Regions from separate parts of the Homo sapiens genome. Here region 1 is linked to region 2. Evidence: fine-mapped expression QTL. A gene starts in region 2. The other region holds a variant in brackets. All regions are shown on one strand. Distances are from middle to middle. Region 1 overlaps VWA8 (von Willebrand factor A domain containing 8). Region 2 holds the start of NAA16 (N-alpha-acetyltransferase 16, NatA auxiliary subunit).

What was found. PIP is the estimated chance that this variant, and not a neighbour inherited with it, causes the effect.
Region 1: its variant is fine-mapped to the expression of NAA16 in breast (GTEx, PIP 0.94).

Annotation. Positions count from the first base shown.
Region 1 is chr13:41,553,678-41,567,473 of GRCh38, forward strand. It overlaps VWA8 (von Willebrand factor A domain containing 8), which reads right to left. Exons shown (of 45, transcript NM_015058.2): 45 at 13,158-13,796. It overlaps LOC105370174 (a long non-coding RNA gene), which reads left to right. Exons shown (of 3, transcript XR_941901.2): 2 at 5,015-5,162; 3 at 9,670-10,414. Among named protein-coding and RNA genes, the nearest start is that of MIR5006, 7.8 kb to the right of the region's middle. RefSeq lists a silencer at 184-375. The variant C/T (reference allele first, on the strand shown) is at 9,328.
Region 2 is chr13:41,301,586-41,316,571 of GRCh38, forward strand. It overlaps NAA16 (N-alpha-acetyltransferase 16, NatA auxiliary subunit), which reads left to right and starts at 9,682. Exons shown (of 20, transcript NM_024561.5): 1 at 9,682-9,997. The coding sequence starts at 9,944. It overlaps LOC105370173 (a long non-coding RNA gene), which reads left to right. Exons shown (of 3, transcript XR_001749846.2): 3 at 1,928-2,466. It also overlaps a transcript of MTRF1 not described here.

The DNA of each region.
Region 1 (13,796 bases), 250 kb after region 2:
ATTTTTACTGTAATCTCTAAGACTGGCCAGGTCTGGTGCCTGCTGTCTCCTGGGCTCATTTTCTGCTGCTCTCCTCCTCATTTATGCCAATCTGGCCACCCCAGCCTCCTTGCTGTTCTCTAAGATTCCCACGGTCCCACTGCAAGGCCTTTGCACTTGCTGTTCCCTCTGAGTAGAACACCCTTCTTGATATTTGCACAGCTCACTGCCTTCCTTCCTTCAGGTTTGTCTTCAGTTATTATCTTATCAGAGAGGCCTCCCTGTGTACCTTACTTAAAATAGTGTCCCCTAACCGAATTCTAACGCTTTTTTTTTTTTTTTAATTTTTTTTGGAGGCAAGGTCTCACTCTGTTGCCCAGGCTGGAGTGCAGTAGCCTGATCACAGCTCACTGCAGCCCTGACCTCCTGGGCTCAAGCAATCCTTCCACCTCAGCCTCCCAAGTAGCTGGGACTACAGGCATGCACCACCACACTTGCCTAATTTTTGTATTTTTTTGTAGAGTCGGGGTCTCACTGTCTTACCTGGGCTGGTCTCAATCTCCTGGGCTCAAGTGATCCTCTCAACTCAGCCTCCCAAAGTGCTGAGATTACAGGTATGAGCCACCTTTTTCCTTTCATTCTCAGAATCTGTCACCACCCACATATTATACATTTACTTGTTTACTTGCAGGCTCTTTCCCCTAGAATGTGTGTTCCCTAAGAGCAAGTTCACTGTGGTGCCTCCAGCACCCAGGATAGTGTCTGAAACACAGCAAGTGCTCAGCAAATATTTGCTGAATGCATGAGTACATGTATGAGGAAAAGCAGTTGCAAAGAAGATTCCAGGGTGGGTCTTTTGGGAGGTCATGTGAACCAGACCTTAAAAGACTGAGGGTGAGCATGTAGGGGTGGAGCGAGAGGCTTTTCCAGAAAAGGGGATAAACAGCTGTCAAGTTGGTCAGGAGCTCAGGCCAGCGGTGGGAGTGTGGGTGTGAGTGGAGCATCTGGATGGAGCTGTGCGCGCCCAGCTCATGAACCCCCCTCAGAGCTACTGAGGCTGAGCTGATGTGCTTGGGAGCCCTGTGCAGCCAGGAGAAGGCACTGCATGGGCGTCCAGGTTAACTGCATGACTCAATTGCTCTCTCAGTTTGATACCACAGACCACATAGCCTCCAGGTTTAGTTTCTCAGAACCACTCATGAAGGTCCTACTAACCAGGGCTGACCTCTGGAGGTGAGTGGAGCTGGTGTGGTTTAAAGGGATGGATTTTTCTGCCTCCCCCAACCTGGCTGAGGCCTGAGATGGCTTTTGTTGCCTTTGGGCTTTGTGGACCTCACTTGGCCTTGTGAGCATAATTGCATTCAGCCCCTCCAGGAGTGGTAACACGTTCGGGGTAGGGAGCGGACACTGAGGTGGTGCACTGTGGGAGACAGGGAGGGAAAGGTAGGTTTTGAGTCTGAGGAACTGACTATAACCCAGGCTGGGGCCCAGCCAGGAGGCTGTTTGGGTACAAACTCAGTCTTGCGAGGATTGCACGGCTGTGTGCTCACAAACACGGCCAGGCAGCTACTGAACATCCATCACCAGCTCCTTCCTGTGTCTGGTGACAACAAGTTGCCTGTGTACCTATTAGTGCCAGGTAATGTCAGGTACTTTACCACATTACCTGGTTAATCATCTCCAAAAAATTATGGAAAGATAAGAAATTCATTGTGCAGTTGGGGAAATGGAGGCATAGAAAACTTCCTTAAGCTGGGTGATGTCAGTGAAAATGGTGGAATAAGGACCTCAAAAAACACTCTTCTCCATAAAGGCAATATGAATCCTGGCAAAAATGGTCAGAATTCAACTTTTCCGAAACTCTGGAAATTTAGTAAACACTTACAGCAATCTGGGTAGCATTTACTTAAGAAAAATGGCTGAATCTTAGTAAGAGCAGTAAGCATTGTGATGTTCTAACTTGCTCCATTAGAAATAATAAACAAGTTCCGGGCATAAGATCGATACATAAAAGTCAATTGTATTTTTTTACATGAGCAAGGAATAACCTGAAAATGAAATTAAGAAAATAATTTCATATACAATAGCATTAAAAAGAATACAATACTTAGGAATAAATTTTGAAAAGAAGTGTAAGTCTTATACACTGAAAACTCCAAAACATTGGTGAAAGAAATTAAAGAAGAGCTAAATAAATGGAAAGACATCCTGTGTTCATGGATTGAGTTACTTAATATTGTTAGATGGCAAGACTCCCCAAATCGATCTACAGATCAACGGAATCTTTACCAAAATCCCAGCTGGCTTTTTTGCAGAAATGACAAACAAATCCTAAAGTTTATATGGAAGTTCTAGGGACCCATGACAGCCAAAATAACCTTGGAGAAGAAGAACGAAGTTTGAGGACTTATACTTTCCAATTTCAAAACTTACTACAAAGCTACAATAACCAGGACTGTATAGTAGTGGCATAAGGATAGACACATAAATCACTGGAATAGAATTGAGAGTCCAGAAATAAGCCCATACATTTATTTGTGGGTCAATTATGTTTGGACAAGGATACTAAAACAATTCAATTGGGAAATAATTGTCTTTTCAACAAGTAGTGCTGGGAAAATTGGATATTCACATATAAAAGAATGAAGTTGGACCCCTACTTCACACTATAAACTAAAATTAACTCAAAATGGATCAAAGACCTAAATGGCTAAACTGTAAAATTATTAAAAGAAAAAACATACATGTAAACCTTCATGACCTTGGATTAGGCCATGGTTTCTTAGCTATGACACCAAAAATGCAAGCAAACAAAAACAAATAGATAAATTGAACTTCATCAAAATTAAAAACTTTTATGCTTCAAAGGACACTATCAAGAAAGTGAAAAGACAACCCACAAAATGGGGGAAGTATTTGCAAATCATATATCTTATAATGGTCTAGTATTTGGAATACATAAAGGATTCTTACAACTGAACAATAAATAGACCAATAACCAATTAAAAATGGGCAAAGGATTTGAATAGACATTTCTCCAAAGAAGATATACAAATGACCAATAAACACATACAGAAGTGCCCAATATTGGGCTGGGCATGGTGGCTCACCCCTGTAATCCCTACACTTTGGGATGCTGAGGTGGGCAGATTGCTTGAGTCCAGGAGTTTGAGACCAGCCTGGGCAACATGGCAAAACCCCATCTCTACAAAAAATACAAAAATTAGCTGGGTGTGGTGGCACACGCCTGTAATCCCAGCTACTCAGGAGGATAAGGCAGGAGAATTGCTTGAGCCTGGGAGGGGGAGGTTGCAGTGAGCCGAGATCATACCACTGCACTCCAGCCTGGGTGACAGAGCAAGATTCCATTAAAAAAAAAAAAAGTTGCTCAATATCATTAGTCGTTAGAAAAATGCAAATTCAAATCACAAGTTACTACTTCCCATCCACTAGGACAGCGATGGTCAAAAAGACAGAGAATAAGTGTTGGCAAGGATGTGGAAAAATTGGAACCCTTTTATTGCTGGTGGGAATGTAAAATGGTATAGCTACTTTGGAAAACAATCAGGCAATTCCTCAAAAAATTAAACGTAGAGTTATCTTACAACCCAGGAATTCCACTCCTAGTTAAATACTCAAGAGAACTGAAAACAGACGTCTGCACGAAAACTTGAACACGAATGTTCATAGCAGCATTATTCATATTCACCAAAAGATCCATTGGCTGATGAATGGATAAACAAAACGTAGAGTATATTGATGTAATTGAATATTATTTGGTTGTAAAAAAAAATGAAATAGTGATTCATGATATAACATGGATGACCCTTGAAAACATTATGGTAAGTGAAGGAAGCAAAAAAAAGTCCCACAATGTATAAATCCATTTGTGTGAAATGTTCAGAACAGGCAAATGCATAGAGACAGAAAGTAAACTAGTGGTGCCAGGAGACAGGAGGAGTGATGCAAAGTAACTACTAGCAAGTATGGGGTGTAGAATTAGGGACTGCTGATGTTTGCACAACTTCGTGAATCTACTCCAAAACGCTGAATTGTACACTTTAAAAGGGTGAGTTTTATTATGTGTATTTTTCAGTACAAAATATAAAAAAATGTTTTATTTTTTAGGACAGAAAACTAGTTAGTATGGGGTCATGATTTGAATCCAATGTCCATGCACTTAAGGTCATCTGCGCCAATACCTCTGGGGCTTGCTAGGCAGCATGTGGTCACTTGGAACTGTCTCAGGTACCCAGAGAAAAATGGTTTCTGTTGGGTGTCACTATGTGCCACTATCTGGGCACAGCTTCCTGGGTATCTGCTTGTCACCAGGGACTGATCTAGACACAAATTCATGTTCAATGTCACACAGCCATCCTTGTCCCTGCCACTACTAAGATTTTGTTACAGGGTCAAGCTTGTGTGTCTGATTTGCTCTTCCGTTGAGTTGGAATTGTTTCCAGTTGTTTTCTCATCTCTCATGTGGATGGATTAGGGGTGGCCAAGCTACCACTCTAGCAGATATGGCAAAATTCCTGCTTGGGCTAAAGCTGAGATGCCTCCTCTGCTGCCCTATTATCATGGGTACTAACAGGAGCCCTGGGAATTTCTTTTCCCTAAGATATTTTAAATAGGGTAGACTTTCTCATCTTTGACCTATCCATACACCCACCACCCACCCACTCATTTATCTGTCCATCCATCCATCCATCCATCCAACCATGCATTCATCCATCCGTCCGTCCCTCTGTCTGTCCATTGTGCATTCATTCCATTTGACTAATCCATGTTGTTCAGGGCTCTTTGCAAAGTGACTGACTGAAGCACAGTTTTGCCTGGGTTGGGGAACATGGGCCAAGTGATTTTCTCTAAAGTCTTCTAGGGATTTATTAATCTAGGTGTCTTATTGGGTTGTGTGCAGGTAGGAATGTTTGGCAGCCATGATGATCTGCCGGAGAATCCCAGGCAGCCTCACAAAGGCTGAGATGATTCTGATGCTCCCTGTTGATTTCCCTTTTTTCTTGTTTTTGTTTAGGCCATAGAACAAGCCATTTTCAACAAAAGGACTTGCAAATTCCTGCCTTAGGGCTCCTTCTGCACAGGACAGACCTTTCATCACCAACCCAACTTGTAATCTTGGGTAAAGAAGGTTCTCAGCTCATTTTCAAGAAGAAAAAAAAAATGTAAGTAAAACAAAACAGCCACATCACGAAGTTGCTCCACATAATGAGGCCTGCTCTGTTGACCTATCATTACCCTGGGCTCCAGGCAGGCCTGGGCTGCCCGGCCAACCTCCCACCTTATCCCTGGCCAGTCAAGGTTGGGGTCAACAGCTGGGCAGCCCAGAGGCCACCACAGTGGCTGTGAGGATAAGGCTGCTTTTCAGGGTCTGGCCTTGCCTAGAGCTGCTTGGCTGGATGGTGGTAGCTGAGGAGGAGGAGAAGAGTCCTCTGAGGCCTGCCAGCTCAGCTACCCTGGGACATTCCAAATCCAGGCTTTTGCTTGAACTACACTTACCCTCCCTTTCTTTTGGGGCTCCTTGACTCTTCTTGGCTCATGTGGGTCTTGCCTGCTTTTCAGAGCCAGAACTTGTTCTGCCTCCCAGGCCCATGGTGCCTCCCCATCCCACAGCTATTTGTTCAGCAAAAATTTATTAACCACTTTTCAGGGCCAGGCCAAAGATAAACAAGACTTGATCCCTGCTCTTGTTCCTCCCACAATAGGGAAGGCCGATATGGAAAGAATGATGAGAGAGTGTGGTGAGCACCTAGGGCCATTCTTACTGCCTCAGGACCACAGAAGCTGGTGTCAAATGCTGTTGAGTTATTTCTCCACACTCTTTTGGTGATGCATCCTGTTTTCCCAGTTGATTGAAAACACCTAGAGGGAAGGGTCTTAAATGTCTTCTCTCATTTTCTGAGTGCCTTGCATGGTGGTGACCCAAGTAATGAAATAGCTGTCCAGCAGCAAGGAACTGTTTCCTTCAATCCAAATTTTACTGGATTTCTTGGTCTTTATTTCAATCTGGGAGCATTAGGTTATGAGAAAAACAACAAACCTAACTAACCTCCTATATTTGTTAGGCTGCTGTGCAAATTGGTGGGGGTCTCTGATCCATACCATCACCCAGTGTCTTAGTCAGCTTGGGCTGCTATAACATATTACTGTGGGTGACTGGGTGGATTAAACCACAAGCATTTATTTCTCACAGTTCTGGAGACTGGGAAGTCCAAGATCAAGGTGCCAGCAGGTCCAGTGTCTGGTAGGAGCTGGCTTCCTGCTTTACAGACAGCAATCTTCCCATTATATCCTCACATGGTGGAGAGTGGGACAGAGCTCTTGTGTCTCTTCTTTTAAATGCACCAATCCCATTAATGAGGCCTTCACCTCATGATTTAATCACCTACCAAAGTCCCCACCTCCTGATACCATCACAGCAGCATTTAGGATTTAACACGGGAATTTTGGGGGAACATAAATATTCAGTCCATAACACCCAGGATCCCAGGTTCATTGAAGCTTTGCTATCTTAGGTAGAGCTACACCATCTAAAACACATAGTTTTCTCCGTCACCCCGATTCTGTGAAAGAGAGCTGGAGGGTTGCCTACTAGCTCTTAAAGGCTTTAGCCCACTATTGACACATCACTTCTGCTCACAGCCCAGTGGCCAGAACCAGTCTCACCGTCCTGACCTAACTGCAAGGGCCCAGAGAAATATGGGAGATGTGTGAGCAGTAAATGACTCTGCCATAGTTCCCAAGCTAGCTTAAGTGAAAAGGGGGTGGCTGGGAGGACACCAAGGCATCTTATGGGTCTCTATCTAGGAAGGGGGTCCATCCAAGCCCCCAAAGGAACCGCAACCAGACGTTGGAAAGTTAGGACCCATAGTCACATTCTTAGAGTTCCAGGGTGCCGTATTTACTTCTCTCTCCTTCAGTCAGCAAGTTGACTTTTTCTTTTTTCTTTTTGGGTAGACTGGTTTTCTTTGCTTTTCAAATACAATGGGAATAAGAACAGTCCCTGTCTGAAGGAGCTGTGAGGATATAATGAGTTTATCCATGTAAAGTGTTCAGGAAGTGCCTGGCGCATGGGAAGTGCTAGGTAAGAGTTAGCTATTGCTATTATTTTATGTAATAATAGTAATATTTTTAATTATTCTCCTTGCATATGCCAAAACATGGCTGCCTAGGCTTAGCCTCTAAGACTCCCCCGAGAAGGAACTGACTAAAGGGACCAGTTCTTTTGGGAGCTGAGTGCCTAACTGAGTCAGGGTTCTCCCTGGGTTTGGGGAGAGGGAACAGGCCAGCATGCCCAGCTAATTTTTAAAAATTTTTCGTTGAGATGGGATCTCCCAGTGTTGCTCAGGCTGGCCTTGAACTCCTGGGCTCAAGTGTTCCTCACGCCTCGGCCTCCCAAATTGTTGGGATTACAGGCATGAGCCACTGTACCCGAAGAGAACCATCTTAAAGAGAAAAAAGAGCTGTTTTTATTTTTTGTTTTTAGAAGGCCACGTTCATTTTTTCAGAGGCACTTGGTCTTTTTAGTGCTAAGGAAATAATACTCAAGGATTTTTAAAAACTGTTACACAACAGCTTCTTCTTAAAGGCTGAATCACAGGCACTTTAGAAAACTTCTTAGTGGAGGAGGCTCCACTGATATGTACTCAATACTTACACTCAACAGGAGGGATATATTTCGATTTTGAGTTTGACAGGCACACACTGATCTCATTTAAGTCCTTACCCAGCTGGAGCTCAGGAATTCCAGTGCGCTTTCCACAAGAACTTCCTCATGTCTTGTCGTGCCGAACAGTGGGGCATGACCCAGGCCCTGTTTCTGCAAGGAAAGAGAAGTGGCTCCCAAGAACTGTAGTGGCCTCTTGGTATAAATTGTTTTCCTAAAGGCCCACAGTACAGGGCAAGAGTTTTCTTGGCAACCCAAATTAGAAATAAAAAAAAAAAAAAGCTGATTTGTTCACATCATCAAATAATGGCCCAGAGGCTGTGGAGTAGATGTCCAATTTCAAAGGCCTTGCCCTTCCTCTGGGCCAGAGGCCTTTCATCACAGCTAGGAAATTACCTCCCTAACATGCATGCTGCGCCTGCCTCCATAACCCAGAGGTCAGAAAGGCAGAGCACTTCTATAAGATGGAGGCAAAAATACAAATGGAAAACTGGGTGTCTCTGCAAAAACAAGACTAAGGAGAACCAAGGCACTGCCATCCAAACCCAACACCGCCTTCAGTGAGTGCTCTCAGGAGGCCTGACAGCAGAATATATGCCCAAGGCAAGAATGTCACCCAAGGTTCCCATATCTCCTGCCCTCACGTTGTGTCCCAGGTCTGGGTTCTCTGCTTGAGTAATGCTCCAAGCTGCAAATGCCCCCAGCCAATTCTATCTCCTCAACCCATCACAGGCCCTCTGTCTAAGGACCTTCCTACCAGTGGGGGTTAGGAGGAAAGCATGGGAATGAAAGAATTTGGACCAAGGGGTGCATGATGGTAGCCCGTCAGGGCAACTTGTAGTTGAAAAGAGAAGCCCCTTTTGCAGGGAAACACCACTGTACAGATAGACTTCAGATGCTGCGGGGCACGGCGCCAGGCCAGCTGTGTGGAGCTGCATTCCAGCCAAGTGACTGAATATCTGCTTTCATGCGGTTTTGTGGAGCTGCTACAATCTTCCACCTCTGCAGAGTATACCCGTTTCTTCCAGTCACCACGAAAGGTCATGCAAAAAGAGATTCTTCAGTTCTGGCACTACATATTTAATATCAAATCTTTGTACTTGAGCCTGCAATGGATGGACATGCATATTCTATCAGCCTTGAAAATAGCTGTTCCAACACTGGAGCCCTGAAGGAAACTTTTCAGTTAAATATTCTCTCTTTGCCAACTGCCAAATAGACAATTTTATTATTCAACCCATGGATCCATTAACTCAACCCTGGCCTTCCCCAGTAGCCCCTGTCATCTGCTCTTCTTTTGTGTGTAACACCCTTGATCTGAGCATCCGCTTGTTGCAGAGGCCCTTGGATTCCCCAGCAGCCTCAGGCTCTGTAGGAGCCACCCCTAGGAGGCAAGTCAATCAGGCTGCTTCCCCAGCTTTGCTATTTGATTTCTGTTGGGGCTGCAAGTGTTCCTTTCTAGGCCATTTTTAGGCCTGAATTTCATATGGGCCATAAAATCTTTTGTAAAAGGAAATGGATCAGCTAGCTTTGTCGAGACTCACTCTATTTCTGGAGTCCTGATGATGAAAGACTTAATTAGTGCTGGAGTAAACAAACGGTCAGTCTCGTTAAATTAGCAGCAGTATTTATTAATATAAACACATTGCACTTGAAAAATCCAA[C/T]TTTAATGTCCCCTCTGAGTAAATATACTTATTTTTCTTCAAGTTTCAATCAGTAAGGCTTCATGTACAGCCATGATGTCATGAGACCAATTACACAGAGTACTCTTGACAGGCTCATGATTTTCTTGCCGTATTCTGGCCTGCGTAAGGAGCAAACTTGCTTTAGGATGTTCAGAGAGACACTGTTCTCTTCCATTTCCAGGTCAAACCCCAGCTACCATGACTTAATGCTTCAGAGCTGCATTTCATATTAATACATTCTTATATTCTGAAACTCCTCTGTGGTCACACTCACCATCTTTGGAGTCTGAATTTATTCACACACTCTGGTTGTTCCTTCAGGGAAGGAGCTAGCAGCCCCAAAGTACTTCCACTGAAGCCTTTGGAAAAGAGGGAAGACTCCAAGTCTCTGGCACCTGCAGAAGAGGGGAATCTTGAGAAGTAGCTGACGCTCCGAGTTTACATGTCCCCTTGGTGAGATTTCTTACAGCAGAACATGACGTTCTTCCCACCCCCAGGATGCAAACCACTTTAAAAGAATGTTATACTTTGCTCTGCGTGGCCAAATACCACAAACACCACTTGATTTTAAAATTATGTAGTCTTGGTATTCCAAAGCCAACGTGCACCACCATGCAAGAACAGATGCGGTCTCTGAAGGCAAAAGCCCCAGGCAGTGCTTAAGTCTCAAAAAAGAGTTGTCATGTCATCCTCAACTTGAGATGTTTGCTTGGCAAGCATTTTTTACTCTCTGGAGGAAATTTTGTTTACAGGATTTAACAGTTACACACACAAACACACACACACACACACACACACACACACACAATTACTCATTGTTCAGCTGCAGAACAAAGGTCAGCTCTTGGCACGCAGTAGTTTTCCAATTCCTGATCCTTTTTGATTTTCAATGTGCCCATCAGCAGACATGTAATTTTATCTTAAGACAGCCAAGTGCAAAGCATGAGACAATAGGCAGAAATCTTGTAAATAACTATCAAACAGAAATAATCCTTTCAGCTGACGAGGGAAAGCCTCCTTTGTTCCATTTTAATGATGTTTATATAAATTTTAGTATGCATATTCAGTCAGTAACATTATTTTAAGGCAGTTGATATAGGTGCCAAAATCCTCTGTGTACTGAGGAGATAGGTTATCTTTTGCATGTGTGGGGTTTTGGAGACAAAAGTTGCACTGAAGTGTGTGGCTCTTGTAAATTATCTCAATTTCCTGTTTGAGATAATGGAGCAGTGGATTTTCACATCCAATCCCTTTAAATCGTAGGTTTAATTCAGTTGAGACCCAGAAGTGATTAGCCCAAGTTTACACAGGCACTTAATAGCTGAGCAGGGTCACAGACAAATTCTACCTAAAGTTTGCAATTACTCCCCATGATAAGCTGGAGAATTGGAATTCCTTTCCATTACCTGTAGTACTTTTGCCATAGTAAGTCTTAGAACAAGAGTAAAGAAAAGGCAATAGGTTTTCATGGCTGGGTGCAGGGGCTCATACTTGTAATCCCAGCACTTTGGGAGGTCAAGGTAGGAGGATTGCTTGAGGCTAGGAGTTTGAGACCAGCCTCAGCAACATGGTGAAACCCCGTCCCTACCAAAAAAAAAAAAAAAAAAAATTAGCTGGGCATGGTGGCATGAACCAGTAGTTCCACCTACTCAGGAGGTTAAGGCAGGAAGATCTCTTGACCCCACGAGGTTGAGGCTTCAGTGAGCTATGATTGTGCCACTGCATTCCAGCCTGAGTGACAGAGCAAGGCCCTATCTCAAAAAAAAAAAAAAAAAAAGAAAAAGGAAAAAGAACCTTATGATATAATCCTGACCAGAAATTGGACTTAAGTATTTTTCAAAGCCATTTATGTTACTGGTTGGAAAAAAATGATAAAAGTGGACATTTTGTTTCTTAATAAGATTAAAAAGCTATGTACGATGTATTAAATATAAGTCGACATTTGATTATTCCTTAGATGCAATTCCAGAAACAAGTTGTCCAGGCAGGAGAGGCTGGCTTAGAATTTGTGGAGTATCTTACAATTGTGGTCATTGGAAACAAATCGAAATGCAGCAAATAAGCCACTATTCCTGTTGTTCCCCTTGTCTGTTTCTCCCAGCTTTATTCACTTAGAAACTTAATTTTGCCTGATCTGACAGGCACAAGAAGGAGCCAGGTGGAGGGAGGCTGGAAGCCTCCAAGGTTGGTCTTTCAGGAACAATGACAATGCTGTCTACTGAAAACCACTTCCAAACGGCTTTCAAAGCCCAGGAGTTTGTTTAGAGAAAATCTTGCTGGCATTGATGGATTTCTTCTCCTCTGACAGTTCACAGGAAAGAGTGTAGTATAAAGAATTAAGTGATTCATTCCAAACATCTGATGGGTTCCCTTCAAGTACTCCCCCTCTGATCCACTTCTTATGGCTGTGCTGAGCCTCCCCATCTGTGATGAGGTCATTTTGTCGGGCACACAGAGGATTCTAGGGGGAATATGCATCATATACTGCAGCTATTCACGGCATTCATTCCTCCTGGCTGCTCATGGGTAACAATGAACCTTCTCAGCATTACATGTGCTTACTAAGGAGACAGGGGTTAGATGCCTTTCAGTGGAACCCCCCGAGGCACACAATGCATTTATTATAATGTCTTGGCCCTAAGAAGGGCCTGGGAACAGCTTGGAGTGGTCTATAATTAAGTACATTTAATAATAAATGCACATACTTCTTAGGTATTGCAAGAAGTGAAAATAAGCTCTTCGTCTTCTCAGTCTCAATTCCCTTTCCCCATCATCCTTCCCCTTCACAAATCAGAAAAGCCAGGAGTACTGTGCTTTTTTAAAAATAGCAATTGCAGAGGATGTCTGGCTGGTCGAGAAAGGTAAATTAAATTACTTGAGAACATTCTTTCCATGTCAAAAAAAATGGCTTCTGCCTCCTCAGGTAGTTACGCATGGGGAGGATTTGCTAAAGGTTGGCTGTTCCTTTAATCTCCCTTGGATTCCACTTCCAAAGGCTTTCAGGGGCAGTGACCCGCTAGCTAAGGGGCATCCCTTGGGGTTAAGCTGCCACTTGGAAGGGCACTTCCTCAGATTGCTGCTGTGCCTAGCAAGGAAGCAGCAGTTAGAAGTGTTCCCCCGACAGTGTCCCATGTCCTCGGTCCCCACACCTCTGAGTGCTCGAATATGGGCAGATAGATAGACTTTCTGAGGAAAGGGAGAGGAAGAGAGCCCTGTGAATGTGGACAGGGTACAAGAAGAGAAGTCACACTGGAAGGAAGAGAAAAAGGCAGCAGGAGTGTGACATGTACATTTGTGAGATGCAGCAAGGGGCGTGGGACTGCGAGGGACGCAAAGGCATTAAGGGGCCTGGAGGCTGGAGGCCCAGCTTTGCCCCTGCCTGGCTGTGAGTGTGGCCTATTTTCTTGAACTTCTCTAAGCCTCAGTTTCTTTACTTGTAAAATGAGGATGTTAATGGTACCATGAATAGTTAGTGAAAGGTCTAGTAACAGGAATCTTGGGAAAGTGACTTAAATTCTCTGAGCCTCACTTTCTTTATCATCTGCAAAATAAGGTAAAAAATACCCCTGTTACATGCATTGTTGTAAGGATGAATGAAATAATGTATGCAATCACTTAGCATATACCTGGTTCACAGTAAATCATCAGTAAATGCTAGCTGCTGTTGTGGCGACCGTTGGAATGCAATTACATTTTTAAAGATACATGTTGGATTGAAATTGTTTGCATCATTGAATGGTTCAATACATGGAGCAGGTGTCTCACTAGAGGAACAAGAAAGCCATGCAAACTCACCAGGTAGTACCACGTTGGAAATCAGATTGCTTTTATTTATTTATTTGATAGTTAATGATAGGGAGAGGGGTGATAGAACAAATGGGTATTATCTTTTCTTCTTTCCTATAATTAATTAAAATGAAATTATGGACCTGTACAATTTCAATAGATATGGATGGATAGGATAATATTATTAATAATAGTTTTTCCAACTTAAGACCAGTTTTTTCAACTCACTGGTGCCCTAACGTTTCTGATTTTGCTATCAATCGTGAAGAGGAGTTTTTAAATTATATGGTTAAAGAGAGAATGACTTTTGCTGAAGCATCTTATTTTAAACAAAGTAATATTGAGCTTATTGATAAAATAAAGGTCAGCCCAAGAGTGTGTGGGAATAAGGTACATTTTGAAAGAAAAGAGAATGAGGCTTTAAAAAAAGTTGTTTTCTTTCTTTTTGTTACAGCTAAAAATTTCCAATCACCATTCACTTCAAATATACCACCTTGATTTTACTTTTTTTACTTTGCTTTAGGTAATTTTTATATGAATATTCTCAATAAATAATTTTCGTGTAAGCATTTATTATTTTGAGCATTACAGTTTGGACCCCAAAATGGAGTACTGTGAATTTTTTGAGAGATGCTAGAAGAACAGAAGAAACAGTAAACTTT
Region 2 (14,986 bases):
AAAAATGCAAGAATTAGCCGGATGTGGTGGTGGGCATCTATAATCCCAGCTACTTGGGAGGCTGAGGCAAGAGAATCACTTGAACCCAGGAGGTGGAGGTTGCAGTGAGCCCAGATCTCACCACTGCACTCCAGCCTGGGCAACAGAGTGAGACTCCGTCTCAAAAAAAAAAAAGAAAGGCAAGGACCAGAGCTGCACAGAAACAAAGTCTGTCTTATTATGTAGATAAAGATTTTATGTAGATAAAATCTCTCAGTGCTGCTCTCAGATGAACAGATGAAAAGTCTGTCTGGGTGTGGGGATGACTCCCAGTCTCTTCTCTTCTCTGGTGGTTGATCTTTCCTGGCTATTTGATGAGATTCCTAGGGAGGGAGTCTTAAGACAATTGTATTTAAACTTTCTTCTTCAGATAAGAAATTCCAGAAGGAGTCTTTCTTATTTATTTATTTATTTATTTTTGAGATGGAGTCTCCCTCTGTTGCCTAGGCTGGAGTGCAGTGGCACGATCTTGGCTCATTGCAATCTCCCTCTCCTGGGTTCAAGCGATTCTCCTGCCTCAGACTCCCGAGTAGCTGGGATTACAGGTACCCACCACCACCATGTCTGGCTAATTTTGGTATTTTTAGTAGAGACAGGGTTTCACCATATTAGCCAGGCTGGTCTCGAACTCCTGATCTCAGGTGAGCCACCCGCCTCGGCCTTCCAAAGTGCTGGGATTACAGGTGCGAGCCACCGTGCCTGGCCAAGAATCTTTCTTAGGGTGCTTCTGGAAACAGGATCAGAGAGACAGGAAGGTGGGAGAAGTGGCAGAGAGAGAGAGACCTTTGTTCTCAGGCTTATTTTTGAGGATTTTCAAAAGCACTCAGCGTGGCTATATTTGGGGAATCATTTCTGTGCCCCAATACAGGGAAGAAAAGGGAGAAACACACTAGATCTGGATTTTTTTTTAAATTTTTTTTTTTGAGATGGGGTCTTGCTTTGTCACCCAGGCTGGAGTGCAGTGACACAATCATGGCTCACTGCAACCTTGACCTCCTGGGCTCAAGTGATCCTCCCACTTCAGCCTCCCAAGTAGCTGAGACCACAGGTGTGCACCACCACGCCTGGCTAAACTACTTTTTGTAGAGATGGGGCCTCCTTATGTTGCCCATGCTGGTCTCAAACTCCTGGGCTCAAGTGTTCCTCCTGCTTTGGCCTCCAAAGTTTTGGGATTACAGGCGTGAGCCACTGCGCCTGGCCTAGATCTAGAATCTAAAGCACTTGGCAACTTGAGAATAAGAAAGAGCAGTCAAAGTTGATTATAAAATTTTGAGGCAAGCTGGGTGTGGTGGCACCTGAGTAGTCGGAAACTGTAATTCCAGCTATTCAAGAGAGCACCTTGAGTAGGTGGAACCTGTAATTCCAGCTACTCAAGAGGCTGGAATACATACATTCTAGCTACTCAAGAGGCTGGAATACATACATTCCAGATAAGAAATTCCAGAAAGAGCCTTTCTTATTTATTTATTTATTTATTTTTGATTTATTTTTATTTTATATGTATATATATTTGATGCTAACTGCAAGAGTGGTGTCAATAACAAAAACAGATAAGTAGTTTTCTCTATTTTTTTGGACTACTTTGATGGAAGATAATACATTTTATTTCAACTGTTAAAGTAGGAAATGCTTATAAGACATCCAGATGGAGATATTAAACAATGAGAATGAAGGCCAGGAGATCCAAAGGGGACTTGAAACTGGAGAGAGATTTGAAATAATCTACTTGGTGTTAATAATGATGCTATGGGAGCAAGAGAATTTATTAATTTTGTATTGCTAGTGTATTCTGTACGTGCTGGTCTTGCACATAGCAGGTGTTCAATGAACATGTTTTATTGTTGTTGTTTAAAAAGAAAACAGAATTATCTAGATAATCTACATTTAGGAGAAGAATGAAGACTTGATTGAGGACCCAAAGGATGACCAAGAAGAGGTACAGGAGAAAACCCAGAATTCTGCAGGGTCTTGGCGATGCAAGTGTCAGAGCCATTTGAACCAGAGCTACTCCATCTTGAGTGAGGGCTAAGAAAACTGAGGCTGGGACTTGCTGGGCTGCATTCCCAGGAGGGTAAGTATTCCTAGCCTCTAGGTTAACGGAACAGATTAATAACGTTTACTAACAGACCCAGACTCAGGAATGTCCTGATATCCTGATGTCTTAAAAACAAAAGCACTCCTAATTTTGCTTTAAAGATAAATATCGATCCTTGCAAAATATAGTAATTAAGAAAACTAATTGTTTAAATCACAAACCTTTGTAGTAGAGCAAATCTCCCCATTTTTTTGTTATCCTATATATAAATAAGCATTGTACCTAGGGGTAGGCGCGTTCCTCCTCTTACTTTCAGGAACGCCCTACTCTGTCTATAGAGTAGCTATTCCTTCACCACTTTACTTCCTTAATAAATTTGCTTTTGCTTTGCACTGTGGACTTGCCCCAAATTCTTTCTTCGGTGAGATCCAAGAACCCTCTCTTGGGGTCTGGATCAGGAGCTCTTTCTGGTAACATAAGAAAAGAAAGAGAAATTCATGAAGGAGAGGGTGGTCTACTGTGTGAAATGCCAATGAGAGATTAAGGACCTTGTGGACTGAGAAACTTTTTGGAATTGGCCAATTCTTCAAAATACAAGCTCCATGAGGGCAGATGTTTTTTCAGAGGCAGGATCTTACTTATTGCCCAGATTGGAGGGCAGTGGCTATTCACAGGCACAATCACAGTGCACTGCAGCCTCAAATCCCTAGGCTCAAGTGATGCTCTTGTCTCAGCCTCACAAGTAGCTGGAACTACAGACGTGTGCCTGGGCTTCCGCTGAGAGCAGATATTTTTGACTGTTAGAAGACTGCCTATAACATCGTAGGTACTCAACAATAAATACTGTGAACAAAAATTCTCTGAAAAGGAATTTAGAAGAAAGAAACTATTCCAATGAACAGTTTGCAAATAGGGGAGACACAGCCTTTGGTACAAAAGGAAGGTACATGCCAGAGAACAAAGGGAGGGATTGTTTTTATATAGAAAGTACCTACCCAGGTTCCCATGCTCCTCCATTTATGTAGATGAAGGATGCAAACTTGCTTAGATCTGATTGCCTGATGTTTGCTGAGTTTTGATTGGTTGACATAGGTTACAGCTTATTGGTTGGTTCAGGTGCCTAAACAGGAACAGGCAGCTATGAAAGTTGCAAAGTTAAGGAAAAGCCTGTAAGGAACTCAGAGTACATGTGTGATCTCTAATCAGCAAATGGCCCATTGGCTCTATTTTCAATTCAGGCCCAGTTAGACACTAAGGATTTATCTTGAAGGACTGGCTTTTTCAGGTTTCACAACGCAGAACAAATGAACTGGTGATATTTCAGAAAACACTTTCAGAAAACTGTTGGGCACAGAAGCCAAATCTTAAGTATTCAATAGAGTTGCCACTTTCCTAAAAAATATCCAGCTATTTCTCATCTGTTTTCCCCATGTAGTCAGAGTGATTTAATGCAGTTGTGTGATAATGGCTCACTGCAGCGTCGACCTCCCAGGCTCAAGCTATTATCCCACCTCAGCCTCTTAGGTAGCTGGGACTACAGGCATATGCCACTATGTCTGGCTAATTTTTAAAATTTTTTGTAGAGACGGGGTCTCACTATGTTGTCCAGGTTGGTTTTGAACTCCCAAGCTCAAGTGATCCTCCTGCCTTGGCCTCCCAAAGAGTTGGGATTATGGGTGTTAGCCATTGTGCCTGGCCAGAATGACTTTTAAAAAATTAAATCATCAGATCATGTAACTTGCCTTCTGAAAATGTTTCAGTGGATTCCCATTGAATTTAAGATTAAACAAACAAACAGACAAACAAAAAAACCCACACTGCCTGAGACCGTGAACTCTGCACAGCCTGGTCTATATTTTCAACTGTACTGCATACCACTTTACTTCTCCTGCGCTACACTCCAGCCACGTCCTTTAACCAGAGAGGAGAGACAAGTTCTCACCTTTCCCTTCTATTCCTTCGTCATACCAATCTTCTTCCTGCATTAGGGCATTTGCCTGTGGTTCCCTTTGTTTAGAATATGCCATCCCACGACATGTGGTCCCCCACCAGGATCTCCCAGCCAAACTTGCTTCTCATCCTCAGGTTTCTGTTCAATTGTCATTATCACCTCCCCAAAGGGTTCTCATTCCTGTGTACTTGGTTTAAAGTAGTCCTTCCCTCAGCCCCCATTGCTCTCAAATGACCTTGCTTTGTGTCCCTCATAGGACTTGCTTTAAGTCCCTCATAGGACTTCATACAGTTTGGAATTACCTTATCTATTTGTTTATGTGTTTATAATCTGTCTCCTCCCACTAGGATATAAACTATGTAAAGAGAGAGAACATGCAAACTGGGAGGAGAGTAACTGATGAATAAAATTTGAGGAAAAGCAAAAAGGGATGAGATGAAGAACTCAAAGGGAGGAATAAGAGTACCTTTCTTTCTCGGAAAAAAGAGCCGGCTGGGCGCGGTGGCTCACGCCTGTAATCCCAGCACTTTGGGAGGCCGAGGTGGGCAGATTACGAGGTCAGGAGATCGAGACCATCCTGGCTAACACGGTGAAACCCCGTCTCTACTAAAAATACAAAAAAAATTAGCCGGGCGTGGTGGCGGGCGCCTGTAGTCCCAGCTACTCCGGAGGCTGAGACAGGAGAACGGCGTGAACCCGGGAGGCGGAGCTTGCAATGAGCCGAGATCGCGCCACTGCACTCCAGCCTGGGACACGGAGTGAGACTCCGTCTCAAAAAAAAAAAAAGGAAAGAAAGAAGAGCCAAGAACATGGAAGAGAGCAGAAACATCAGGGAGTCTGGGGTGGAACACGTTGTATAACCTGATAAGTTATTTTCCCATCAGCTTTTAATTACATAGTTAAATTGGCTGTGGGAATAGCAGCAAACTATTTGATTTTAGGTTGCCAGCTGGCTCTGGAAGACATGCACGTATATGGGGTGGAGAAAATCCTTTTCCAGATTCTTCTCTCCTTGTCTTTACTAGGCTGAACGAGAAGAATCAGTGGCCCATATTACATATGTAAAAAGGGCTTTGGGAATTGCAAAGGTCTTTACAGATGTGGTTACTGTTATTTTACTTTATGCATGATTCTAAAGGAGGTATGCACCGTCTGAAGTGCCAGGAAGGAGCATCTGGGTGGATGTCCATGATGGCCCCAAAAGGACTTCAGCATTTTTCCTGAGAAACAGTGAGTTCAGATTTACACAGTATTTGTTTTTTATCACAGGCTTTGAAATGACTAAGCATTAAATTCACATAACCCTGCTGTGAAACACATTATCATGTTATTATAACCCCATTTTCTGTTGAAAGGTAGAAATAAGATCTGTTCCAGACTAAACAGGAAGTCAGTAATAAGATTATAGTTACTGGTTAATCTAGGCTTTCTGATTGTGCATACATTACATCTTTTATACACATAAGGTTCAGGATGACAACTACCAGCACCGTGATTGGTGTTCTTTTCTATTCCCTCCCTCTCCCCTCACCCCCACACTAGTGTAGACAACCAAGGTGATATGGTTTGGATTTGTGCCCCCCCCACCCCAATCTCATCTTGAATCGTAACCCCCAGTGTTGGAGGAGGGGCCTGGTAGGAGGTGACTGGATCATGGGGACAGATTTTCCCCTTGCTGTTCTCATGATAGTGAGTGAGTTCTCACGATCTAGTTGTTTAAAAGTGTGTAGCACCGCTGGGCATTGTGGCTCATGCCTGTAATCCCAGCACTTTGGGAGGCTGAGGCGGGTGGATCACAAGGTCAAGAGTTCAAAACCAGCCTGGCCAACATGGTGAAACCCCATCTCTACTAAAAATACAAAAATTAGCTGGGCATGGCGGTGCATGCCTGTGGTCCCAGCTACTCAGGAGGCTGAGGCAGGAGGATTGCTTGAACCCAGGAGGTTGCAGTGACTGAGATCATGCCAGTGCACTCCAGCCTGGGTGGCAGATGAGGCTCCATCTCAAAAAAAAAAAAAGTGTGTAGCACCTCCTCTTTCACTCTATTCCTCCTGCTCCAGCCATGTAGGATGTGCCTGCTTCCCGTTTGCCTTCCACCATGATTGTAAGTTTCCTGAGGCCTCCCCAGCCATGCTTCCTGTATAGCCTGTGGAACTGTGAGCCAATTAAACTTCTTTTCTTTATAAATTACCCAGTCTCAGGTAATTTTTTATAGCAATGTGAGAACAGACTAATACAAAAGGTATGTGTGTATGGTGTGTGAAAGACAGATGAAGAAGATATTAAATATGAGTATTTATAACTATATATAACTATAGTTTATAACTAGTAGCAAACTAGTGCTGCTTTCTAGTATTTGGGATTGCAGATTTTCTTTGCGTGACTGCGCTTCCCTGGGAGATGCTGGCACGGAACTGTGTGTCCTGGGAAGTGGAAGTTGGCAGTGGGTCGGAGGCTGCAGAGTGCACGTGAAGAACCTTCCTGGGCTGCTGATTTAGGGGTTGGGGAGAGCAATGGTGAATGAGGGTGATGATTTAGCTGCTACCACAGAGAGTGAAGATAGTTAATGATTTGTAGTAAATAAGGCTGGAAGAGGCCCACAGGAAACTTTCATAAAAGATAATCGTTCCTTGTCTTCAAAATATTTACAGTTGGTACTATGCTTTTCTTCCCTTCTCTTGTATATTTCTTTTAAAAATCTAATTTGTCATTTTGAAATAGGTCTAGAAAAGTCCATGTCCTATGAGGGTCAAGTGAGGGCTTGACTGACGCACTGAAGGTTTGGCTCTTTTCGTGAGTAACCCTTCACTTCTGATGATGTAGATAAATGACAATGTAGATAAATTGGGAGCCAAAGGTTTTCAGGAATTAGTAATGCCGTGGTAAGCAAACTGTGGCTAGCAATTATGGCAGTGGTTGAGTATGAGGGTGCTGAGAGGAGGCACTTCTGTGTGCTTGCTCAGTTCTCCGGGTGGGGGACTGCCACTAGTACAGGTGCGACTAAGGCAAGCTCCTAAAGCATCTATACTTGCCTACTTCCTAACAGCTTGGGCAGCTTGGGAGCTCTGCAGAGTACACATAGGCCCTTGAACCCCCACTTTTATTTTTTTCTTTCCATTTTTTATTTTAGACTCAAGGGGTAAATGTTCAGGTTTATTACACAGGTAAATTGCATGTTGTGGGGGTTTGGTGTACAGACAGTCTTGTCACCCAGGTAATCAGCATAATACCCTATAGGTAGTTTTTTAATCTTCACCCTCCTCCTACTCTCCACCCTCAAGTAGGCCTCAGTGTCTACTGTTCCCTTATTTGTGTCCATGGGTACTCAGTGTTTATAATTCCACCTGTAAGTGAAAACATGTGGTATTTGATTTTCTGTTCCTGCATTAATTCATTTTGGATAATGGCCTCCAGCTCTACCTGTGTTGCTGCAAAGGACATGGTCTCATTCTTTTTTGTGGCTGTGTAGTATTCCATGGTGTACCACATTTTCTTTATCCAGTCCACCGATGGGCATCTAGGTTACTTCCATGTCTTTTTATTGTGAATAGTGCTGCGATGAACATACACGTGCATGTGTCCTTTTTTTTTTTGAGGCAGTTTGTTGCCCAGGCTGGAGTGCAGTGGCATGATCTTGGCTCACTGCAACCTGTCTCCCAGGCTCAATTGATCCTCGCACCTCAGCATCCCAAGTAGCTGGGACTACAGGCACTCGCCACTATGCCCAGCTAGTGTGTGTGTGTGTGTGTGTGTGTGTGTGTGTGTGTGTGTGTTTGCCATGTTGCCCCGGCTGGTCTCCAACTCCTGAGCTCAGGGTGATCCGCCTGCCTCAGCCGCCCAAAGTGCTGGGATTACAGGCGTGAGTCACTGCACCTGGCTGTGCATGTGTCTTTACGGTAGAACAATTTATATTCTTTTGGGTATATACCCAGCAATGGGATTGCTGTGGACCCCCAATTTTAATGACAGTACTTTCCCTATTTTAAAGGACTCCTATGATGCTTTAAAATCATGTGTGAAACGTAGGAGATTGAAAGAAAAAAAAAGACTCCTATGATTCTTTCATGTCCAACCAACTTAGGCTAGAAAGAAGGAAAATCAAATAGGCAGGCACTGTGGCTCACACCTGTAATCCCAGCACTTTGGAAGGCCGAGGTGGGCAGATCACCTGAGGTCGGGAGTTTGAGACCAGCCTGACCAACATGGAGAAACCCCGTCTCTACTAAAAATACTAAATTAGCCAGGTGTGGTGGTGCATGCCTGTCATCCCTGCTACTTGGGAGGCTGAGGCAGGAGAATCGCTTGAACCTGGGAGGCGGAGGTTACAGGGAGCTGAGATAGCGCCATTGCATTCCAGCCTCGGCAACAAGAACAAAACATCGTCTCAAAAAAAGGAAAATAAAAAAGGGCAGCCCAGTTCTGATTACAGCCGACTAAATGCAGTTACTCATCAATTACTTTATAGTCTCAGAAATATGCACCCATTAAGATTCAGCACATGTATAAATAAACTTATGTACCTAATGTTTACACACACCTTACTACTAACCCTACACTGAATGTATGGTTTATTCTTGCCACTGTTGTATCTTTCTAGACTCACACATTACCATCAATATGCTGCCTTTTATTTGTTGTAGAGAGTATCCCAGAGTTGGAAGATCCTGAATTTGAAGCCTGTTTCTCCCATTATTATATGGCTTTCAGGAAGGGGAACCATCTGAAGAGAAAGGGTAGGTAGACTCAGAAGACCAGTGGCCTTATAAAACCGTAATTCCGGCCAGGTGTGGTGGCTCACGCCTGTAATCCCAGCACTTTCGGAGGTTGACGCGGGGGCGGATCACGAGGTCAAGAGATCAAGACCATCCTGGCCAACATGGTGAAAGCCTGTCTCTACTAAAAATACAAAATTAGCCGGGTGTGGTGGCGCATGCCTGTAATCCCAGCCACTCGGGAGGCTGAGGCAGGAGAATCCTTTGAACTCAGGAGGCGGAGGTTGCAGTGAGCCCAGATAGCGCCACTGCACTGCAGCCTGGGCGACAAGAGCGATACTCCATCTCAAAACCAACCAACCAAACAAAAACAAAGATTGTAAATGTTTGTTTGGTTTGCCCTGGAAAGAGAAGGCTTCTACTTAGAGTCTGAATCAAGGAGGAAAAGGAAAGAAAACAAGTTCATCTTTCATCAAAAGTCTACTTTGCATCGGACACTTAAATTCCTAAATGGGGAGAAATGCAAAAAACTCTGACTCTTCAGAGTCATAACTAACATTATCTTGCGCCACAAGCTTATCAAGAGTGCAATACAAGTCAGTGTCTTCTCTTTTCTACTTAAAAGAAAATTCTCGTTTTTATTTATTACTTTATTGCAAGGAGAAGCAGACAATAAGTAGGAGTCTTATGAGGCGTTCTGATGCATAGGAGCAATGGTGAATGAGGGTGGTGACTCACCACCCCATGGGACTCCAAGGTTTTGGTGACAGCTCGCCTGAGCCCCAGGGGGTGCCGAGATTGCGGCGAGGAGAGCCGCAGCACAAGGCAAATCCACGCGGTTGGTCCCCGCTACGCCCCCGTAGTCACCCGCAGCCCCTCGCCAAAGGGCGCTCCGCGCATGCGCACAGGATCCGGCTCGGGAGGCGGACCCTGGCTGCCATCTTGCAGTGCGCGGGAACCGCCGCCGCCGCCGCTGGCCAAAAAGCGGAGCCCAGGGGAAGCGTGTCCTGCTCAGACCGCCTTCCTTCTCCATTGCCACCCGTGCCGAACAGCCAGGCTGCCCAATTGCAACTGTAGACCAATGAACTAATCCATCGCCCGCAGCCCGACTCTCAGCAGCGGTTCGTCCCGGTGCCCACCCCCGCGAAGCGGAGCGCCCGGGCACCTAGCCTCCCTGCCGGCCACCTAGCCTCCCTGCCGGCCACGATGCCGAACGTGCTGCTGCCGCCCAAGGAGAGCAACCTCTTCAAACGCATCTTGGTGAGTGGCCGTAGGCCGCGCTGCCGCCCCCCGGTCCCCGGGTCCTCGGGCCTTAAGGGCAAGCGGTCTGGCGGCGGCCGGCGCGGGCCAGGCTTGGCCTCCGCTGCCCACCGCTCTTTGTTTACCTCGGAGGTCGCGGGACCCCACTTTCCCGCTCCGGCCGGCCCACGGGGGCTGCCGAGCCGCTCCTCCGTGCGCTTCCTTTCCGCGGTCTTCTGCGGCTCGCCTCACCCCCGCCGCGCTCTTTCCAGAAACTTCACGCCGCTCTCCGCAGTGCCCGGGCACAGCCGCCTCGGCCGGTAGTGGCTGCCGTGCTCTCTGCCGCGCCGGGCTCGCAGCAGCCCCTCAGGGATCCTCCCCCGGTGGTTTATTTTGCCAGTCTCTCCTCGGCTAGGTGTTTTGCGTTCTGCATTCTCTGCTTTGCGTTTAGTTAGATTGCACAGCACACCCGCATACCTATTAAAGCGGGATCGATGCGATGGTGGAATTTTTCCTGGTTACGAGGAAATAAAACCGGCAACTTTAGGAAGCCAGGCCTGGCACCACCTCCCTTTGGGAAAAAGTTTGCCTGTTTGTAATGTACCTTATTTACCTCTTTGGAAGTGAATATTTGACTTGAAGTGCGTTTCTGAGTTGTCACCAACTTCAAAACAGCTGTTTGCTTTTTAGTCGCACAGGCCTTGCTTGAGTAATTAAAGCCGCGTGGACTGGCTGGTTTTGCATTTGAGGGGAGCATTTTTACTTTATCGCGGAGCAGAAGCCTGAATAATGGCCCCGTAGTGATGACCGCTGCGGAGCCGGGTGGGCAGTTTTCTGTGGGCTGTGTGCCAGCGTCCCTGGTAGCTTTCCAGGTTCTGTTCTTCCAAGGAGAAGAGGCAGCATTCCTTTGCTTTCCTCAGTATCCTCTGGCTACCCTAGGTTTTAAACTAATATTGTTAGTAGGTAACTGTCTTTTCTAGTTTATCTTTTCACCTGAAAAAAAGCTTTTATTTGCTAAACATGCATTTAGGTTTAAAGGTGAATTTATTGAAAGCTGGGTTGGCTATATGGCTGTTAGTTGTTGCTTAACTTTACTATAAATAAAATACTAATTTTAGAGTAATTTTAAGTATGAACAGCGGCAGATAATTCATAGTAGCTGTTCTGTTTCAAGACGATAGAAACTTCACACTTAGTCTTCAGATTAGGATACATAGTAGATGGGATAAAAATTTTAAATATTATGTGGTGCTTAGTTTTGAACCAATAATAAGATACAAATGTGAGAACATTAAAAATACGAATAATTAAAGCACGTGGCAGGTTGCTTCATTGGGCTTTGTATTTTTTTATTTTACTTCTCATGCCCTTTTATTTTACACAGCATGGAATTGGAGAAGTAATTTATTTATTTTTATTTTTAATTTTTTTTTGCCCTGGGAATCTGAAACATTAATGATAATATCATTTATAAATCGCTAGTTGGATTTCAGGACATTTGGCATCATACTTTAAAGATGACAGCACTTCTTTTCTCTTTATACGAGTTTTTTGTAGTTCAAATCATGGATCAGTGTCATAAGGAAAAAGTTACATTATTATTCTTAAATTACAAAAAAGGTAGGGTTTATCCCCAAATAAATTGGGAAATGGTAACCACTAAAAAAAAATCAATTATTTTGAGATGGAAGTCTCGGTTTGTTGGCCAGGCTACTGTCGAATTCCTGGCTTGAAGCGATCTTCCCACCTCAGCCTCCCAAATTGCTGGGATTACAGATGTGAGCTACTGTGCTCAGCCAAGCTAAACATTTTTAAATCTAGGTATGTAATGTTTCTGACAAGGTTGCGTGAATTTAGGAGGATTCTGCATAAACGAATGATTTTATCATTTCACAATTGCAATAAATGTGGGTAAAATTTGGCTACAACAAATTCCATAGCAAACAGAAGTCTCTGTAATAAAATTATCTTTAAAGTTTAGTGGATTAAAGTGCTTTGCCACCAACAGTAAAATTTTTTCTATTGAAAAAATTCAAACACATCCACACAAACTGACCAGCTGGTTTTTTACGTGTTCCACGTGGCTTGTATCTGCATGTCTTATTCCCCAGACTGGATATTAATTAGCATTACAGTTTGTTGAATTTTGGAGGTATTCCATGCCCTCTTTTAGAAAGAGACAAACCTAAAGATGGTAAATGACCAAGTGGCTAAGGTTCTCTGTCTGGTTAGTAGCAAAGTTGAGACTAGAATCTATCATTTCTGCTTAGTATATAATGGTTCCTGAGTGAATGTAGATTTGTCTTTTTTTTTTTTTTGCGAGAGTGTATCGCTTTGTCGCCCAGGCTGGAGTGCAGTGGCAAGATCTCACTGCAACCTCTGCCTCCCAGATTCAAGCGATTCTCGTGCCTCAGCCTCCTGAGTAGCTGAGATTACAGGTTGACTTGTCTTTACCCGAGTACTTGGACTCTGGGGACAGACTACCTGGTTAAGAGTTGTGGCTCTGGCACTTAATAGTTATATAAACTCTATAACTATGCCTCAGTTTCTCTATCTAAATGGGGATATCATGCATCTCATAGGCTTTCCTGGGATTTAAATAAAGAGTAAATAAGCTGTCATGGGATGAAGGAAAAAAATAACAGTGTCTGGACGTATAGTAAATGCTTCCAATAGGTGTTAACTATTATTACTGTTATTGGCAGTATGATTATTATTATTTTCAGATAACCTGGTAAGTCAGAAAAACTAGTATTTCTATTTGTCTTTCTCAGTAGTTCCTTTCTCTTGTTTTTTTCTTGTCATTTGTGAGACAGACTTGTAGTCAAACTCAGATTGTCATTTTTTATTTTAAAATATTTTTGGAATAGGCAGTATATTCACATGGTTCAAAATTTAGGTTTCTCTCCTATCCTTATCGCAGAATCACCTAGTTCCCTTCCCCAGAGGCTGTCAAGAGGCCTCAATATAAACTTTTTTTCCATGAAGACTTTTCTAATTCCTTCCACATCCAGCCCCTGCTGCAAGGCTTAAAGATGGTCTCATCCATTGCTAGTGGCATTTTGCTTTGAACTTAGTAGGCTGTATTTATGGAGCAGTTTCTTATTTGTTTAGCCATGGCAATGCAGCAGTATGTAAAATAGGCTAAGGCCGGCGCAGTGGCTCATGCCTGTAATCCCAGCACTTTGGGAGGCTGAGGTGGGAGCTAGGATCACTTGAGCCCAGGAGCAAAAGACCAACATAGTGAGACTTCATCTCTACCAAAAATAAAAAAATAAAAAAAAATTTAGCCAGGCATGATGGCACACACCTGTAGTCCTTCCTATCCACTCAGGAGGCTAAGGTGGGAAGATCACTTGAGCTCAGCAGTTTGAGGTTATGGTGATTGTGTCACTGCACACCAGCTTGGGCAACAGAGTGAGACTGTCTCTAAAAAATAAATAAGAAAGATAGGTGAGATCATTGTTCTAAGGATCCATTATATGATGGTGGGGAAGACAGACACTAAATAATAGCATAAATAAGATTTCAGGAAATGATAGCACTGTGTGGAAAATAGAGTAACATGGTAGAGAATATGTTGGGGAAGGAAGGAGGATGGGAGTATTTGATAAAGTGGGCAAGTAGGGGACATGTGAGACTTGGATAATGAGGAACCATCCATGGGAAGATCTAGGAAAGCAATTCAGGCAGAAGGAACACAAGTGTAGGAGGCCTGAGGTGGGGATAAGCTTGGCATGTTGAGTAATTTAACACCCAGTGTGACTGAACAATGTAAGCCAGGGAAGAGTGGAAAGCAATGGGGTGTTCTTCGCATCAGTGGCTGCCAGGGAGAGATGTTAATTGTGTACCCTGGCTGGTGGCATTCGGAAATAAAGATGTTGCTTATCCTTGCATTGGACTAATGATGGTCTTTGGAGTAAGATCAGAGTTTGCAGCTAAGCTGAGCAGCTTATAAACAAGTTTTTGAACCTCTGGAGTTTCAGTTTCCACATCTCTGAAGTGGAAGTAATGACACCTACATTAAAGAATTGGTATTAAGTAAGAGATTACAAATTTTTTACAGACATATCATAGCTGCTCAATAAGTGGTAGTATTTGTGTGTGTGTGTGTATGCGTGCACACACCCATGCACTTTGGTTTCATTCTTGCGGTAGCAAAGGCTTTTAGTGCAGTTTCTGGTATTTTTCTGTTGCCACATATGTTTTTGCTTAAATTTTTTTTTTGAGATGGTGTCTTGCTCTACTGCCCAGGCTGAGTGCAGTGGCACAGTCATGCCTTACTGCAGCCTCAGCCTCGTGGGCTCAAGTGATCCTCCCACCTCAGCCTCCCAAGCAGTTAGGACCACAGATGTGCACCACCACGCCTGAGGAATTTTTAATTTTTTTGTAGAGATGAGATCTTGCTTTATTCCCCAGGCTGGTCTTGAACTTCTGGGCTCAAGCAGTCCTCTCGCCTTGGCCTCCCAAAGCATTGGAATTATTTTGAATTAAAAAATTCTGTGTACTAGGAAAGGGAAACAAAATAAAAAATTCTGTGGCAGTATTGATTGGTGAATTGTCATTTTTTTCTGTTTGTTTGTTTTGAGACAGGGTCTCATTCAGTCGCCCAGGCTGGAGTGCAGTGGCATGATCTCGGCTCACTGCAGCTTCCAGCTCCTGGGTTCAGGTGATTCTCCTGCCTCAGCCACCCAAGTAGCTGGGATTACAGGCATGCGCCACCACGTCTGGCTAATTTTTGTAATTTTTTTTTTTTTTTTTTTGAGACAGAGTCTCGCTCTGTTTCCCAGGCTGGAGTGCAGTGGTGTGATCTCTGCTCACTGCAACCTCTGCCTCCTGCGTTCAAGCGATTCTCCTGCCTAAGCCTCCTGAGTAGCTGGGATTACAGGCACGCACCACCACACCCAGCTAATTTTTGTATTTTTAGTAGAGACGGTTTCACCATGTTGGCCAGGTTGGTCTCGAACTCCTGAGCTCAAGCGATCCGCCCACCTTTGCCTCCCAAAGTGC